2 linked regions of the Homo sapiens genome follow. The protein of the gene in region 1 binds, or shares a complex with, the protein of each later gene. Each region holds a gene or a part of one and is shown on either strand. Other genes may lie near its edges. A codon is read from its position in the direction of its gene.

Region 1 (7,924 bases):
TCCTGGAGAAAGACTTTGATGCTGAGAAAACTGACTTGCTCAGCTCTTGCTACAACTGTGACCATCTCTGCAACAGTAAAGTAAAAACAAATACCTCTCTTGTTGGGTAATAATTTGTAAGTCATTGCAAGGAGAACACAAAACTGCTGCTGATTCTTTCCTTCTGTTACATACTTTGGTGGAAATGGACACATTGTCACTGCTTTTTTAAACTGTTGTAGCCAGATCTCAGGCATTCTCAGCATTGACCCCTTCCTGCTAGAGGATTTCCAAGGGTTGGTATCTGGGTGGCTCCAAGGTCCTTTGCGTTTTCAGTAGAGGGTATTCACTGTATCTAGGAACCCTTTCCTAGGCTTCAATAATTATCTTTTAATGGCTTGGTAAAATGGTGTTGAACTTAATCAGCAACACTGCTAAAAATTAGTTCAAAGAAAGCTTTTCAAGAAGGTTCCCCTTACTTATAAATTAAGTCCTCCATACCCCTTCTCAGATTGCTACAAAGGACCGCCAGAAATCATGTTGCTTGTTTCCTACCGAGAGAGGTCATCCCCATCAGGCTAGCGCTAGAGAAGAGGGTCAGCATCGGGAGCCTGGGAACAAGGGCAGAAGTGAGGGATGGGGAGGCAGCATTCTTACCTTTCCGGGCCTGCTGGATGTATCTTGCCAGCAGGGCGCCCAGGTGCGCTCGGGACTCGCCATCCGTTCTCTGCGATACCCTCAGCTGCCTACGGGGCGCCTCCTCTGCCCGCTGCAGCCCGGAGCCCGCGGGATCTGCGGGAGGCACCGGCTGCGTCAGGGCGCCAGCCGCCAGTACCGCCATCAGCACGCACAGGCACACGCCGCTGTTCATGGCTGTAGCGAGCAAAGGAGGAGGGCGCGTTAACTGAAAGGCTGGGCAACAGAGCTCCTGCGGCGGGCCGGGCACCCAGAAGCGGGCTTAGGACAAACACAGGTGCTCCAGACCCGCCAGGCCGCCGCAAGCACGAGGGCTCGCCAAGCGCTGACCCCAGCCGAGTGCCATGGCGCGCGCCCCCGGGCGCACCTGGCTGGTCTTTGGGAACTCCTCACCCAGCGCCAAGGGGCAGAGACCCTGTTTTCTGCCGTGTTGAGCAGAAGGAATGTTTTTGCTTTCCTAAAGTTTGAGGAAGTGTTTGCAGAGTGCCTCTCTTCTAACCGAAAGAAGAAAAATAAAACCCCACGAGATTAAAAATAGTGTGAAAAAAATATCCTAAAGGGAAGACTCCGTGGGAGAAATGAGAACCCTGGGGAAAGCACTTTTCCAGATAGCTAACAAGCTTTCAATATGGAAATACAGTAAATGATGAAAAAGAGAAGCACAGTTTAAAATGTAGGAGCAATAAATAAAGCCGTATTTATAAAGTTTTTCTCAAAGTGTACGTGGGAAATGGCAATAAGCCACTACGCAGAACATAGGCAGGTTTTAAAATCAGAAATATGTGCCCAGCGCTCAGGCTTCGAAAGCCCCGTGCATTTTAGATCGCTAGTGGATAAAACACCCTCAAGTTTCTATCCGTAAAGCCTCGAAATTTTCTGCAGTATTTAGAAAATGAATTTAAATCTTAAAACCCTCTAATATTTTATTAGAAAAGATTGCAAAGTCCCCCGCACCGCTGTGTAACAGCTAGCAAACTCAATCTGCATGCGAATCTTAGCGAATGGGTAGTTCATCCCTTAATGATGCTGGCGTATGAAAGGCTCTAAAGCAGCTCTACCCACCCAGACCTCACTTTTAGACCCAGAGCCGTTATTTCTGACTTCAAGAAATGTCTTTCGAGCTCTCGGAGGGAAGACACAGAAAATAGAAAAGCATAATGGAAATGGGCACAAAGCTGAAGACAGCATCCTTCAAAGACACACGACACTTGGATCCCCCGCTGACGAACCGAGGGACCTACCTTTTGGATTAGGACGCAGCTGGCTTGGCGTTTCCAACCGGAGCAGCCCGGCAGCTGAGCCAAGTTCAGGGAGGACCAGCGGGCGGCTGTCTCTTAAATAGCCCCACCCGGCGGCGTCGGCCAGTCATGTATTTACCCAACGCTGACGCAGACTGGCAGTAACACGTGCTCAGAGGGCGGCCACTGGGGCGACAACCGGTTGAAGTGGCTCCTGGGAGAGAGGGGGAGGTGGTCTAGTGGGGTGGAGTTAATCCCTCCCACGCGCGGTGCCGGGTGTCCGCCCCCTCTGGGTCCGAGAAGCTTCCGCCCAACCCTTTCCAGGTGCCGCTCCCCTGCGCATTCCAGAGCAGTACTCTCCAAGGTGGGAAACCTAGGAGTTTGGAGTCTCCTCCGGGATGGAGAAGCTGCCGCTAGCTTAGTTCGCTTTGGGGACCGGAGGGGCTAGAAAGGAAACTGGGGGCGGGGGTGGGGGGTGGACACTGGGCAGGACTGAGCATCAGCAAGGCGTGATTCTGAAAGGGAGGGGGCGTCGGCCCCCTACCCCGGAGCGTCCGAGGCGCTGGTCTTCATACCTGTGTCGGCTCTTTCGAAGGAGAGAGGAGGAGTCGGGGTCTTCACTTTCTTCTCAGCCGCATTAAAAGCCCTCGCAGTTCTCCAGGTTTCCGAGGGCCAGTGTTCTGGGTCAGTGAAAGGGCTCTGGCCACAGCTGGCTCTTGGTGTCCTGGGCCTCTCTTGACGCAGCTGTAAAATGCGGATGACACCATCTGGTTTTGCTCAGAGGAATCCGGTTTGGGAAAGGGATGTGTTTTCTTCCCGGGCCAAGTTACCACCACCCGCGGCGCCCACTGTTCCCCGTTGTCGACAAGCGGCGCCAGCGAGGGTCCTGGGGAACTTGACCACCGCACCCCCGCAAGCTCGGGTAGACCACGGCATCCGCCCCTCGCACCTTTCCTGAGGGCCCACACACTCACACCCCCAGGACAGTACCTTCCAGAACTCAGCTGCGCAGCCTGGAGGTGAGGACCTCACCCCTAGTCAGTCACCCGTCCGGTGGAGGGAAGGGAGGCACCGAGGCTGCCGTGCGCCTTTCCCTGCACGCGGTTACTCTCCCGGCTCCGGAGCGGGCCGACCTGGAGCCCCTCAGTGCGCTCTGGTCGTCTACACCCTGAAACCCTTTGAGTTCGAGTCCGCTTGCTGGTGCTTGAGTTCGCCGCGTCCCTGCAAAGGCACTGCCAACCCCATTTCACAGACCGCAAACCGAGGCGCGAGGAAGAGCAGCGCCTTGCCAAGGCTCCACAACACGCCCCTCGCCCTCTCCGTGCACCGAGGCCGCCCAGCCTGGGACCTGGAGATCACCAGGCCTTGAACCTTGGGACCTCAACTCCTCTCCCTTTCTTTCCCCCACCCGTCTTAGATGCAAGGAGAAAGATTTAGAAGCGCTTATTTTAAAATCGGAATCCGTATTCCGCTCTGGAATTCCCTCTGGAATGGAGGGACTGTGGCAACGCCAGTGTGAGGGTGGAGTGGGCGAGGCGGGGTGGGGGGGTTGGGGGGGCGGCCCAGAGACGCCTCCGGTTGCTGCTCCACTTTCTAATCCTGAGAGGCAGCTGCGTTTCTGCAACCTATGGGCAACATGTTTGAAAGAGCTGAAGCTGATTAAATGCTTTCCAGTGGTTTCGCCACGAGCCTGCTAAGGTTTGTGTAGTTCAGTTGCGAAAAAGAGTCTTATTTGTGATTGTGGCAAGACATGTCTGGAAACATAAACTTGTTATCGAAATACCCCCAGAGCTTCTAATTCAGTAGGTCTGAGGAAGGGCCCAAGAATCCGAATTCCTTCCTTCCTTCCTTCCTTCCTTCCTTCCTTCCTTCCTTCCTTTCTTCCTCCTTCCCTCCTTCCCTCCCTCCCTCCCTTCCTTCCTCCCTCCCTCCCTCCCTTCCTCCCTCCTTCCCTCCCTCTCTCCCCTTCCCTCTTTCCCTCTCTCCCTTCCTTCCTTCCTTCCTTCCTTCCTTCCTTCCTTCCTTCCCTCCCTCCTTCCTTCCTTCCTTCCCCCCTCCCTCCCTCCGTCTCTCCTTCTCCCTCTTTCCCTCTTTCTCTCTCTCTTTCTTTCTTTCTTCTTTATTTCTTTCTTTCTTTCTTCATTTCCTTCCTTCCTTCCTTCCTTCCTTCCTTCCTTCCTTCCTTCCTTCCTTCCTTTCCTTGCCTTTCCTTCTTTGAGACAGAGTCTCACTCTGTCGCCCAGGCTGGAGTACAGTGGCATGATCTCGGCTCACTGCAACCTCTGCCTCCCAGGTTCAAACGATTCTCCTGCCTCAGCCTCCCCAGCGGCTGGGATTACAGGCATGTGCAGCCATGCCTGGCTAATTTTTATATTTTTAGTAGAGACAAGGGTTCACCATGTTGGCTAGGTTGGTCTCGAACTTCTGACCTCAGGTGATCTACCCACCTTGGCCTCCCAAAATGCTGGGACTACAGGCGTGAGCCACCACGCCCCACCAAGAATCTACATTTCTAACAAGTTCCCAGGCCATACTGAAAATGCTAGTCCGCCAAGCACACTTTGAGATCATTTCTATAGAAATTCCCTACCTTATACCAGTTACTCAACTCCTGGCCTTGATCCATTTAATTCATGTTTATTCAACACTTACTTTGTGCCAGGCCCCAGGGATTCAGTATGAACAAGAGCTGACAATACAATAGGGGAGCTGAAGCAAACAAGTGGACAAACACTTCTCAACAATTCTGATATTTGGGGACTATGGAGTGGAGATGGTAGGAGGTAATCTTGGAGAAATGTTTTGGTGAGGGGAGCTAGGTGGTAATATGGAAGATGCCCAAAAGGCAGAGGGACTGGAAGGGGAGGGCTGGATAGGAGGCCCTCGGGGATGGGCAAGCAGGAACAATCAAGGTAGATTTGTTTTAGAATAATAAGCCATTATGAAACCCATTAATTATTAGGAAACATAATAAACATTATGCAAGTCATAAGTGTTCATCAGAGAACATTCAGAAAACAAAAGTAGAGAAAAGAAGAAAAATTCCAGCCTCCCAGGGAACAACCTGTTGCTGCTCAGGAAACTGGTAGAGGGAACCGGACTTGGTGACTGAGACTGACCTTGAGTTTCCAGGCTGGGAGACAAGGGTGGGTGGTAGAGTATTATCCAAGACAGGGAATTCAGAAGGAAAAGCAGGCTTGGAGTGTGGCCGTGGTGGTAGTGGGCCAGTGGGGAGCGGGTAATGAGTCCAGTATGGGATTGGTTGATCGTTTGTGCATTGACAGTCTAGGAGGAGTTTGGGAGCCTTTGTCCTGAGCAGAGAGACACTGGAGGGGTGGACCCAGAGTCTGGCATGTGGGTGGTGGCTGCCAGCCTGGGAGTTATAGGGAGAGTTGAGGAAGGCAGCTAGCAATGGGTGGCAGGGTGCCTCTAGACAGACCGCTGAGGAGTGACAGCGTGAAGGAGTGGGTGGAGGAAAAAGAGCTGGTACAGAACCAGACAAGTGGGCCAAGGAGGCCAGCGTGGAAATGCCAGTGCAGAGCCAGAGGTGACAGGGACCATCAGAAGCTGAAGAAGGGCTTGTGCATGGGCCTTTCTCATTTACGATCAAGAGAGCTGCTTGCCTCTTTATTGTAAAATAAAGCAGTTGTAGCCGCTTGTCTCTCAGGAGTGGAAATTCTGAGCAGGAAATGTGTGATAGAAGAGCTGCTAGGAAAATAGAAAGACATAAGGGATCTGAACTCCTTGGCCATAGTCATGATTTTTCCTTCTTACAGGGTCAACAGGTACTAATTATTCTGACTATGGTTCCTAAGCAAGTTAGGCCTGGAGCCGACACTATTCCTGTAATCCAGATGCATATCCGCATTAAAGATAATCCATTTGTTCACTTAAAAAAATGGGCTTGATGTCTCCTGAGGCAGATGCCTTTGGTGCTCCTCACCACAGTTCCACGTTCTCCCTCTGGCTTCAGCTGCAGCCTAGCCAGGCTGGGCAGTTTTCAGCAGACAGCATTCCCACTTCAAGCTTTCAAAGCACCCCTCTTGGCTTATCTCCTTCAAAGTTCAGCCCTTGCAGAGGTTCAGCCTGTAAGTTTGGGTGTTATCTCCCCGAAAGACAATCTTCAGCCAGTGGGGAATGGGAACCCCAGTCTCTCTGTATGAACCCTTCTGGAAGCTTCTAAAGACTTCTCAACGGTCCTTTGCCTGTATCGGTGAACTTGATAACAGCTCTCTCTCTCTTTTTTTTTTCTCTCTCTCTCTCCCTCTCTCTCTTTAGACAGGGTCTTACTCCGTCACCCAGGCTGGAGTGCAGTGGTGCAAACCCGGCTTCCTGGCTTAAACAATCTTCCCACTTCAGCCTCCTGAGTAGCTGGGAACACAGGTGCACACCACCATACTCTGCTAATACTTTAATTTTTTGTAGAGACAGGGTCTCACCATGTTGCCTAGGCTTGTCTCAAATTCCTAGGCTCAAGTAATCCTCCCTTCTCAGTCTCCCAAAGTGTTGGGATTACAAGTGTGAGCCACCAAGCCCAGCTGATAACATCTCTTTAGTTGTTTTTTCCTCCTTCTTTGTCTTACTCTTCTCATTTCTTCCTCCTCTCCCAAATAAACGACATGTACTCAAGTCTGTCTAATTTTAGTATAACCCTATCAAAGACACCAACTGTCTTTCGGGCACTGTTGGGATTCAGTGGTGAGCAAGACAGACAAAATCCCTGTGCTTGTGATGCTTCCATTCTAGTGGAGGAGACAGACAATTTAAAAAATACACAGCAGGCATGGAAGGTGCACACATGTTTTCAAGAAAAGTAGAGTAGGGGGAGGGTCTGTGGAGGACTGGGCACCCGCATGAACGTATGCAAACCACTGCTGGGGGATGCCCTGTTAGGCTGTCTGCTGTGTAGACCTTGCTATGTATGTACATTATGGAGAAATGGTTTTGCTTTTCAGTCCAAATAGAGAAAAAGGAAGTTGTATGGGAGTTCGCACTGTTTGGAGATTGTTTTGTATTTCATCAAATGTGAGACGGTAACTAACTTTTCTGCCAAGCTCATTCTCTTGTCTCAGAAAAGGAATGGAAAAGGCAGTGCCCTCTGTGTCCTTCCCACCACCACCCACTCTTCCCCATCATGGAATGAGACGCACCAGCTGGTCCCTGCCTTTATCTGGAGGACTGAGAGTGGAGGGTGCCATATCCAGATGCCGCGTTGGAAAGGAAATAGTGGAGAGAGGAAACCTGTGACTGTTCACTGGTTTGGAGTCTAGAAATTCCCATCTGATTGCGGTGAAATGAATTTAAGTAAGATCTTGCTCAGAGTTGGGGAGGTATCCCCGAAGATTAGTTCCTGAAACAGATATATTTTCAATACACGATTTTTTTAGTCATGAGACCTAGCTCAAAGACATATGTCAATTTTGTATGTGTAGAAAACTTAGTGGAATTTCCAGGGACATGCTAGAGCCTCCTGATTTATTATTCATAGAATTTAAGCTTGTTACAAGCAAGCCCCACTTACCAGAAGGCAGGAGGCTATTTGCTGTGATCAGAAACGTGATGGTTAGAAGGCTTCTTTTTTGGGTCTTTTTTTTTCCTGAACATGTATTAAAATATTATTATTTGTCCTGGAATTTTTCAAAGTCCACATAGCCAATATCATCTGCCAATATCTGGAATGATTAGACTGAAAAAAGGGAAGTAACTATGGTCATGGTGAAGTGTTTCCTTTTCCTAACGATGAATTTCTTTAGAATATCTTGTCATAGTTTGGGTTCCTACAAAAGCAGAGCCTGGGACAGCACCTGGTTACAGGTAATTTATTTGAGAGTGATTCCAAGGGAGCAGGAGTAAGGGAGAAGGGAAGAGAGAAGACAGTGAAGTATTGAGTACAGTGGATGACTGCTGTGGACCCAATCCCCTGGGGACTCTCTGAGATACCTCTTGGAACATGGCTCATAGCCAGCCTACTTGAGGCCAGAAGGAGAGCCGGAGCACCAACTCCCATTTCC
Region 2 (7,154 bases), on another chromosome or scaffold:
CTTACAAAGGAAAAAGATCGTTGTTAAATAATGAAGCAATAATAATAACTAGCACTGTAGACATCCGAGGCCCATCCATATATATCTTATGGTAATACTATTTGGGAACCTTAACCAGAGAATGTGAACCGAGATTTTAAATGAGTGTTTTCATGGTGGCAAAACATTGTGAGTGCCACAGAGTTGTTCAGTTTGAAATGAGGTTAATTTTATGTTATGTAAATTTCAACTGCATAAAAAATATTTTATTGGGCAAAAGAAAAGCAACATCATTCTGAAAGTATTTGCAATACCATAATAATTTTGTTGGATTTTTAATTCCAATAATTTAGGCTCTTCTCTTAATTTTGCAGTCTCCTCAATACTAATAATTAACATTCATTAGCTCCTAATTTGTAGCAAAAAGAAAAAGAATGCTTGCCTGCCAGTGAGTTTATAGTTATTGATGATCCATTATGCAGAACTGAGTCTTAGAGATTTTTGGGCCGTACTCTTCACTCTAAATGTCATCAACTCTTTAGAGTAAAATCCAGTAAAACACAGCAAATCCTATCCCCAGAACATGAGTTTTTAGTTAATGGTTTGGGGGTCATAGACTTTTTTAAGACTCTAAGGAAAGCTAGAGCTAGGCTCCCTAGAAAAATGACATTTTTGGATATAGTTTCAGAGAATTAGTTTATATCCATAAGAATAAGGAGAATCTAAGGACCCCAGTTTCAGGACCTCTGCTCCCAAATTTATATTAATTCTGAGGTTTAAGAAATCTTGGTAAGAGATATTCAGAAGAATTGACAGAATTTATAGCAGAAGGACTCTACAGGGAATTTTAAGGGAATAATAGGACATTTTAATAAGTATGCATATACAAATACAAAAATAATGGAAGTTAAGCTTTTTGGGCAATGCCGAAGCACATGATTTTGTTCATTTTTTATTTTAATTTTTTTTCCATAGGCCATCTAAGACCAAGAAGTACATGATTTATTTTATTTTATTTTTGAGATGGAGTGCCGCTCTGTCGCCCAGGCTGGGGTGCAGTGGTGCGATCTTGGCTCACTACAACCTTGGCCTCCCAGATTCCAGCGATTCTTCTGCCTCAGCCTTCCAAGTACCTGGGATTACAGGCACGTGCAGCCATGCCTGGTTAATTTTTGTATTTGTAGTAGAGATGGGGTTTCACCATGTTGGCCAGGCTGGTCTCAAGCTCCTGACCTCAAGTGATCTGCCTGCCTCGGACTCCCAAAGCGTTGGTATTACAGGCATCAGCCACTGCACCCAGCCAAGAAATACATGATTTTAAATGAGGTGCATTTAATATCTTCCTCACTGTAATGGTGATGCTTGCTCATTCTACAAAATACAGAAAAACAAAAACAATAAGACAAGAGACTTTAGTCCCCAACCCAGAGAAACCTTTAGTTACTGTATGGGGCATTTTCCCTCGTCTTTTTTACTACTTATTTTTTCAACAAGCTGCATTTTGAAATATAGATTGTTTCACTATTAAGAACAGTATGTACTCAAAATTTTTAGAAAAAACCTTCATGCCTCCGGCTCACATCACAGTGACCTTTCAGGGTCACAGAGCCCTTGAGAATCTCGGGTTTTAAAAATCATTTTAACTATGCAGACGATACTCAAAATTACAGCTTTTCTTCAGATTTTAGAGAAACCTCTTCTGTGGGGGCAAGAATGAATTTCATCCCCTTGGTTATTAATTAATGAGCACCTTGAGCCTAAGCAGGTGTTAGGTGATAATCAAAGCTCAATAAACTTATTAAAAATTGGCAATGAGATATATTTACAAAGCCATTTCTTTAACTGCCTTAAACCCTTTCTGGAACAAAGCTGAGAATAAATCATCTTTTAAAAATATACATACACAATATTTCTTTACCTTCCAAGCGTTTTCCTTTGATATCAAACCTGTGCAGATCAGATATATTCAAGCTAATGTGCAAATAAACTTTGGATTTCAGAGTCAACATAACCGGCTTCTTTGTTCCTTTCCCAGGCACCTCTGTGAGTGTATCTACCTTTAATCTGGTAGCCATATCTCTAGAGAGATATGGTGCGATTTGCAAACCCTTACAGTCCCGGGTCTGGCAGACAAAATCCCATGCTTTGAAGGTGATTGCTGCTACCTGGTGCCTTTCCTTTACCATCATGACTCCGTACCCCATTTATAGCAACTTGGTGCCTTTTACCAAAAATAACAACCAGACCGCGAATATGTGCCGCTTTCTACTGCCAAATGATGTTATGCAGCAGTCCTGGTAAGGTTGCATTGTTTATTTTTAAAAATACAGCTTGATGTAATTTTGCAATATCATGAAAAACTGAGATGCCTTGCCCAGAGTGGTTGGGGGATCAGTTTCCTGGAGACGTTTTGAGAAGGTCTTTCTAGCCTCGTTCTAGGATAATCACGATAGCAAACACTTAGCTGGCGAGCTCTGTTTTAAATGCCATGCATATATTCATTCAATCAATCCTCTGAAAACACTCTAAGATAGGTATTATTATTATTGTGTCCGTTTTGCTGTTGAGGAAACTGAGACTTGGAAAGGTTAAGTTTCCCAATTCACAAACTTAAGGAAGAGGCAGAGGCTCTGTGCTTAATCATTATGCAGTATGCTTCTAAATGCTGTAGTGGAGGGTTAGGCTGATTAATTGTAGAGCTATGATTTTCTTTCTTTTTCTTTCTTTTTTTTTTTTTTTGAGACGGAATTTTGCTCTTGTTGCCCAGGCTGGAGTGCAATGGTGTGACCTCGGCTCACCACAACCTCGACCTCCCGGGTTCAAGCAATTCTCCTGCCTCAGCCTCCTGAGTAGCTGGGATTACAGGCATGCACCACCATGCCCGGCTAATTTTTTTGCATTTTTATTAGAGGTGGGGTTTCTCCATGTTGGTCAGGCTGGTTTCGAACTCCTGACCTCAGGTTATCCACCCGCCTCGACCTCCCAAAGTACTGGGATTACAGGCATGAGCCACCGCGCCCGGCCTTCTTTTATTTAATAAAATCTTTACTTTAAAATAGAGATTGGGTCTCACTATATTGCCTAGGCTGGTCTTGAATTCTTAGGCTCAAGTGATCCTCCCGCCTTGGCCTCCCAAAGTGCTGGAATTACAGGCATGAGCCACTGCAGCTGGCAATGATTTTCTAAAGAATTAAGACAGAGCAGGGAATGAGTCCCAAATCCCACATGGTTTTTCTTAGAGCTGCAGCAGCTCCGGTACTTACCCAGAGCATTTTACCAGAAATAAAAACGCAAGTTTCTAATACTGGTTCCTTTGCTTACTAACTGCACACCTTAGGCAAATTCACATAAGCTCTCTGAACGTCAGGTTCCTTATCTCTATAAGGAGTTAACAATGTGGATATTTTAAAAATCTACCTCATTGGGTGGCTGTAAGATACCAAGGAGAGTATGTTCATAAAAATGTCATTATAAAAAAGGCTACACAAATTGCAGGGTATTATATTTACCAATTGCAGGGATGTTTTAGAAGCAGGGAACTAGACATTGAGTAACAGCCCCAAACTGAGATCATCTCTGCTTTTTTTGCTTTCCTCCTTTCATTTCAACCAAGTAGCACACACACAAAGGAATTACGTTGCAAATGAGAGGAATATTTCCAAGGCTTGAAAAGGAATCTTATCAAAACATGTCAAATTGAAGTGAGAAATGGCCCAGCCACCATGAGCCTCTGACAATTTTATGGCCTAATCGTGTAACCTCACACATGCCAGACTGCAGAAGTGATTTAGGGGCCAGACTCATAAAGAAGGAGGCTGTGATTCTTCAGTAATCAAAGATGTTTAGAAAAAGCATAGCTCTACCCAACCAGGCACTAGAATGATGATGCCACTATGCTAGCCTCACAGGGTCATGGAGAATGGACGCCCACGTAAATGTTTGAGCTGCTTATGGGTTGGAAACAGCCAGAATGGCATGTTTTGTAAGACCCAGAAGGTTTTCCATTGTCCCCACCTAAGCATTTGATTACTCTGTTGTTTGGCAAATGGTATACCGTGATGCTTAAAAGCATAGCTTCTAGGTTCTGGAATCATATTTTGGGGGTTCAAATTCCACCTCTGCTACCAGCTGTGTGACTTTGGACAAATTATTTAATCTCTTTAAGTCTCAGTTTCCTCCTCTCTGCTGTAGGTATTAAGACAATAGCACCTACCTCAATGGTTATTATGAGAGTTAAATGTAGTGATGTATGTAAAATGCTTAGCCTATATGTAGCACATAGAAATCCTCGATGTATGTAAGTAATTTTTAAGGGTTTTTAAAACAGCTTTATTGAAATGCTATTCACATACTCTTATTTTTTAAAGCTTACATTCTTTTTCATACATAGACTTCTTTCAAGCACAGAATTACGCCAAACTTTTCCAATTAAACTAGTCCTTCATCAGAGACTTCATCTAAAAAAAGAAAAGAAGTAAACAACTTATAATGACTGAATCTCCAGACATGAAGTTGCCAAGGATATTAAATACTAGTAATTAATGTGTTTGCTCAGGCCAGTAAAAATAAACATAAACCCTATTCATTCCTTCCCATTTGAGTTTGAAGGTCTAAAGTTGCTGGTTATTGGATTTCTTTTGATTTCATTAGGCACACATTCCTGTTACTCATCCTCTTTCTTATTCCTGGAATTGTGATGATGGTGGCATATGGATTAATCTCTTTGGAACTCTACCAGGGAATAAAATTTGAGGCTAGCCAGAAGAAGTCTGCTAAAGGTAACTATCTTGTAGCTGTGTGTTTATGCCAAATGAGCACAAAAGCTTGTTTTCTATCATTTAAATAGATATACCCAGAGTGTACGTAAAGTTTGTTGGAAAAGCTTTTAAGTATTCTTATGAGATTCTGTGTCAAGAAGCACAGTCACGGGCCCAGTATTTCATTTTCTTATCTGTAAAATGGGGAAATCATTCCTTTCAAAAGCATTCTGAGTGGAATAAAGTAACCCACATATAACCCAATAACAAGCCAAGGCCTTTTCTGTGCCAGCTGTTCTGTAGTGCTGTATTCAAACAGACCCCTTTCCATAACCAGAGCTACTTGTAATTCCAGCCTGTTTTGTGTCTCTCCAAAGGTACTGGAGGGGATTTGATTCCTAACCCACAGCCGGCTTTTTGTTGTCTCCTCCTCATCCTCTCTCCTTTTTATTTTCACCCTGCAGTGGCCACAAAGCCTCATTCCTTCTCCATTCATTACAATCCACTGTCCATGAAAATTGACCTTGACACCCTTGTTGACATAGCTTTTCCCTTCTCACTCCATGCCCTAACTCAGCTGTCTACTACACAGATAACTGAGTCTCTCTAGCTTCTTTGGTTTTCATGGGATTTTTTCTTCTTATCCAGATTCCTCATCATAAAAGCAATCTGGAATCTTACCCAGCAAGCAGGAACCTTCCCTCTGGGGAGCTAATGAAGGAAAGGAGAAGAGTGTGAATATTCATTCTTTAATAATTTTTTTCTTGTAACCTACATCCATAAGATGTTGTTTTTATTATATATTTTATTCATTTTAAGCAGCATTTCATTGAAGGGAAGAACTAGTATAGATCAATGCTTACCCATATCAGTGTAAGGCCAGGTTGTCTGCCATTTCTCAGTTCCTGTTTGGTTTGGACTTCTTGATGGAGGGGAGTGGGGGCTCCATGCCTTCTACCGGGCATGACCCATCCCCAGCAATGAGTGATGTCTCTTGCCCACCCAGAAAGGAAACCTAGCACCACCAGCAGCGGCAAATATGAGGACAGCGATGGGTGTTACCTGCAAAAGACCAGGCCCCCGAGGAAGCTGGAGCTCCGGCAGCTGTCCACCGGCAGCAGCAGCAGGGCCAACCGCATCCGGAGTAACAGCTCCGCAGCCAACCTGATGGCCAAGAAAAGGGTGATCCGCATGCTCATCGTCATCGTGGTCCTCTTCTTCCTGTGCTGGATGCCCATCTTCAGCGCCAACGCCTGGCGGGCCTACGACACCGCCTCCGCAGAGCGCCGCCTCTCAGGAACCCCCATTTCCTTCATCCTCCTCCTGTCCTACACCTCCTCCTGCGTCAACCCCATCATCTACTGCTTCATGAACAAACGCTTCCGCCTCGGCTTCATGGCCACCTTCCCCTGCTGCCCCAATCCTGGTCCCCCAGGGGCGAGGGGAGAGGTGGGGGAGGAGGAGGAAGGCGGGACCACAGGAGCCTCTCTGTCCAGGTTCTCGTACAGCCATATGAGTGCCTCGGTGCCACCCCAGTGAGATGTCCCCTGACCCTCCACCGCAGAAGGAAGGCAGGGAGGAGGCAGAGAAGAAAGAACGGAAGAAGAGATCAGGAAGAGAAGGAGCAGAGCTGATGGAGAAGGAAGGCTCCATCTCCAGTGGGAACTCTTCAAGGTCTGCTTTTCATCCTTCATCTGGATTCCAGAGCACTGCTCCAGTGGGGCCATGATTGGTTTCTAGGCAGTTCAAAGCAGGATATGTTAAGTAACACTCACCATCAGAAAATCCTCAGCAGGCCAGGGACGGGAGTCCAGCAGGGCTCATACTGCAAATGGAGTTGCCAGCACATGTTCAAAACGGAGATGTGGGGCCTACTGAGCTTTCAAACCTTCTAGAACATCCAAGGTGGGCTCTCACTCCTCCTGTGACACATTTCCATGCTCTGCTTTTTCTGCTCATGCAGAATTGTGGCGGTTGCTCTGCCTGCAGGGAGCCCATCACCCTATCATGTATCCGCTGTAGCCTTCCACCTCATTGTGACCACAAAGGGAACAGGAAGCAAACCCTCTCTGGCCATTTTGTCCTGGGTACGACAGCAGCCTGATTTCTTCATCTTCAGGTTGGCCAAGAACATTCGGAGTCATAAGCTAGTTGTCATCAGAATAGCATAAGCAATGTCTGAAAGATGGAAGTTTGAACTTAATACTTACTTCTTTTCTTTTCTTTTTTTTTTTTTTTTTTTTTTTTTTTTTGAGACTGGGTCTGGCTCTGTCACCCAGGCTGAAATGCAGTGGTGCCATCTCAGCTTATTGCAAACTCTGCCTCCTGGGCTCAGGTGATCCTCCCACCTCAGCCTCCATAGTAGCTGGGATTACAGGCATGTGCTACCATCTGGCTAGCTGTTTGTTTGTTTGTAGT

What was found.
Region 2: the proteins of CCK (region 1) and CCKAR are in contact, whole or in part, in a cryo-EM structure (PDB 7MBX), measured with the Homo sapiens proteins. Residues at the interface, in NP_000720.1 of Homo sapiens: Asp96, Tyr97, Met98, Gly99, Trp100, Met101, Asp102, Phe103; in NP_000721.1 of Homo sapiens: Cys94, Phe97, Asn98, Pro101, Asn102, Lys105, Asp106, Phe107, Thr118, Met121, Gly122, Val125 (codon at 2,023), Tyr176 (codon at 2,176), Phe185 (codon at 2,203), Asn194 (codon at 2,230), Met195 (codon at 2,233), Cys196 (codon at 2,236), Arg197 (codon at 2,239), Phe198 (codon at 2,242), His210 (codon at 4,631), Leu213 (codon at 4,640), Leu217 (codon at 4,652), Ile329 (codon at 5,973), Phe330 (codon at 5,976), Ala332 (codon at 5,982), Asn333 (codon at 5,985), Arg336 (codon at 5,994), Ala343 (codon at 6,015), Glu344 (codon at 6,018), Leu347 (codon at 6,027).

The regions. Positions count from the first base shown.
Region 1 is NC_000003.12:42,262,781-42,270,704, forward strand, and holds the start of CCK (cholecystokinin preproprotein), read right to left. Parts: upstream 3,406-7,924; 5' UTR 2,904-3,405; intron 2,658-2,903; 5' UTR 2,489-2,657; intron 2,128-2,488; 5' UTR 1,917-2,127; intron 1,168-1,916; exon of another isoform or gene 1,043-1,167; intron 853-1,042; 5' UTR 851-852; coding exon 637-850; intron 1-636. UniProt on the Homo sapiens protein: This peptide hormone induces gall bladder contraction and the release of pancreatic enzymes in the gut. Its function in the brain is not clear.
Region 2 is NC_000004.12:26,480,759-26,487,912, reverse strand, and holds the end of CCKAR (cholecystokinin receptor type A), read left to right. Parts: intron 1-2,014; coding exon 2,015-2,276; intron 2,277-4,629; coding exon 4,630-4,757; intron 4,758-5,742; coding exon 5,743-6,275; 3' UTR 6,276-6,517; downstream 6,518-7,154. UniProt on the Homo sapiens protein: Receptor for cholecystokinin. Mediates pancreatic growth and enzyme secretion, smooth muscle contraction of the gall bladder and stomach. Has a 1000-fold higher affinity for CCK rather than for gastrin.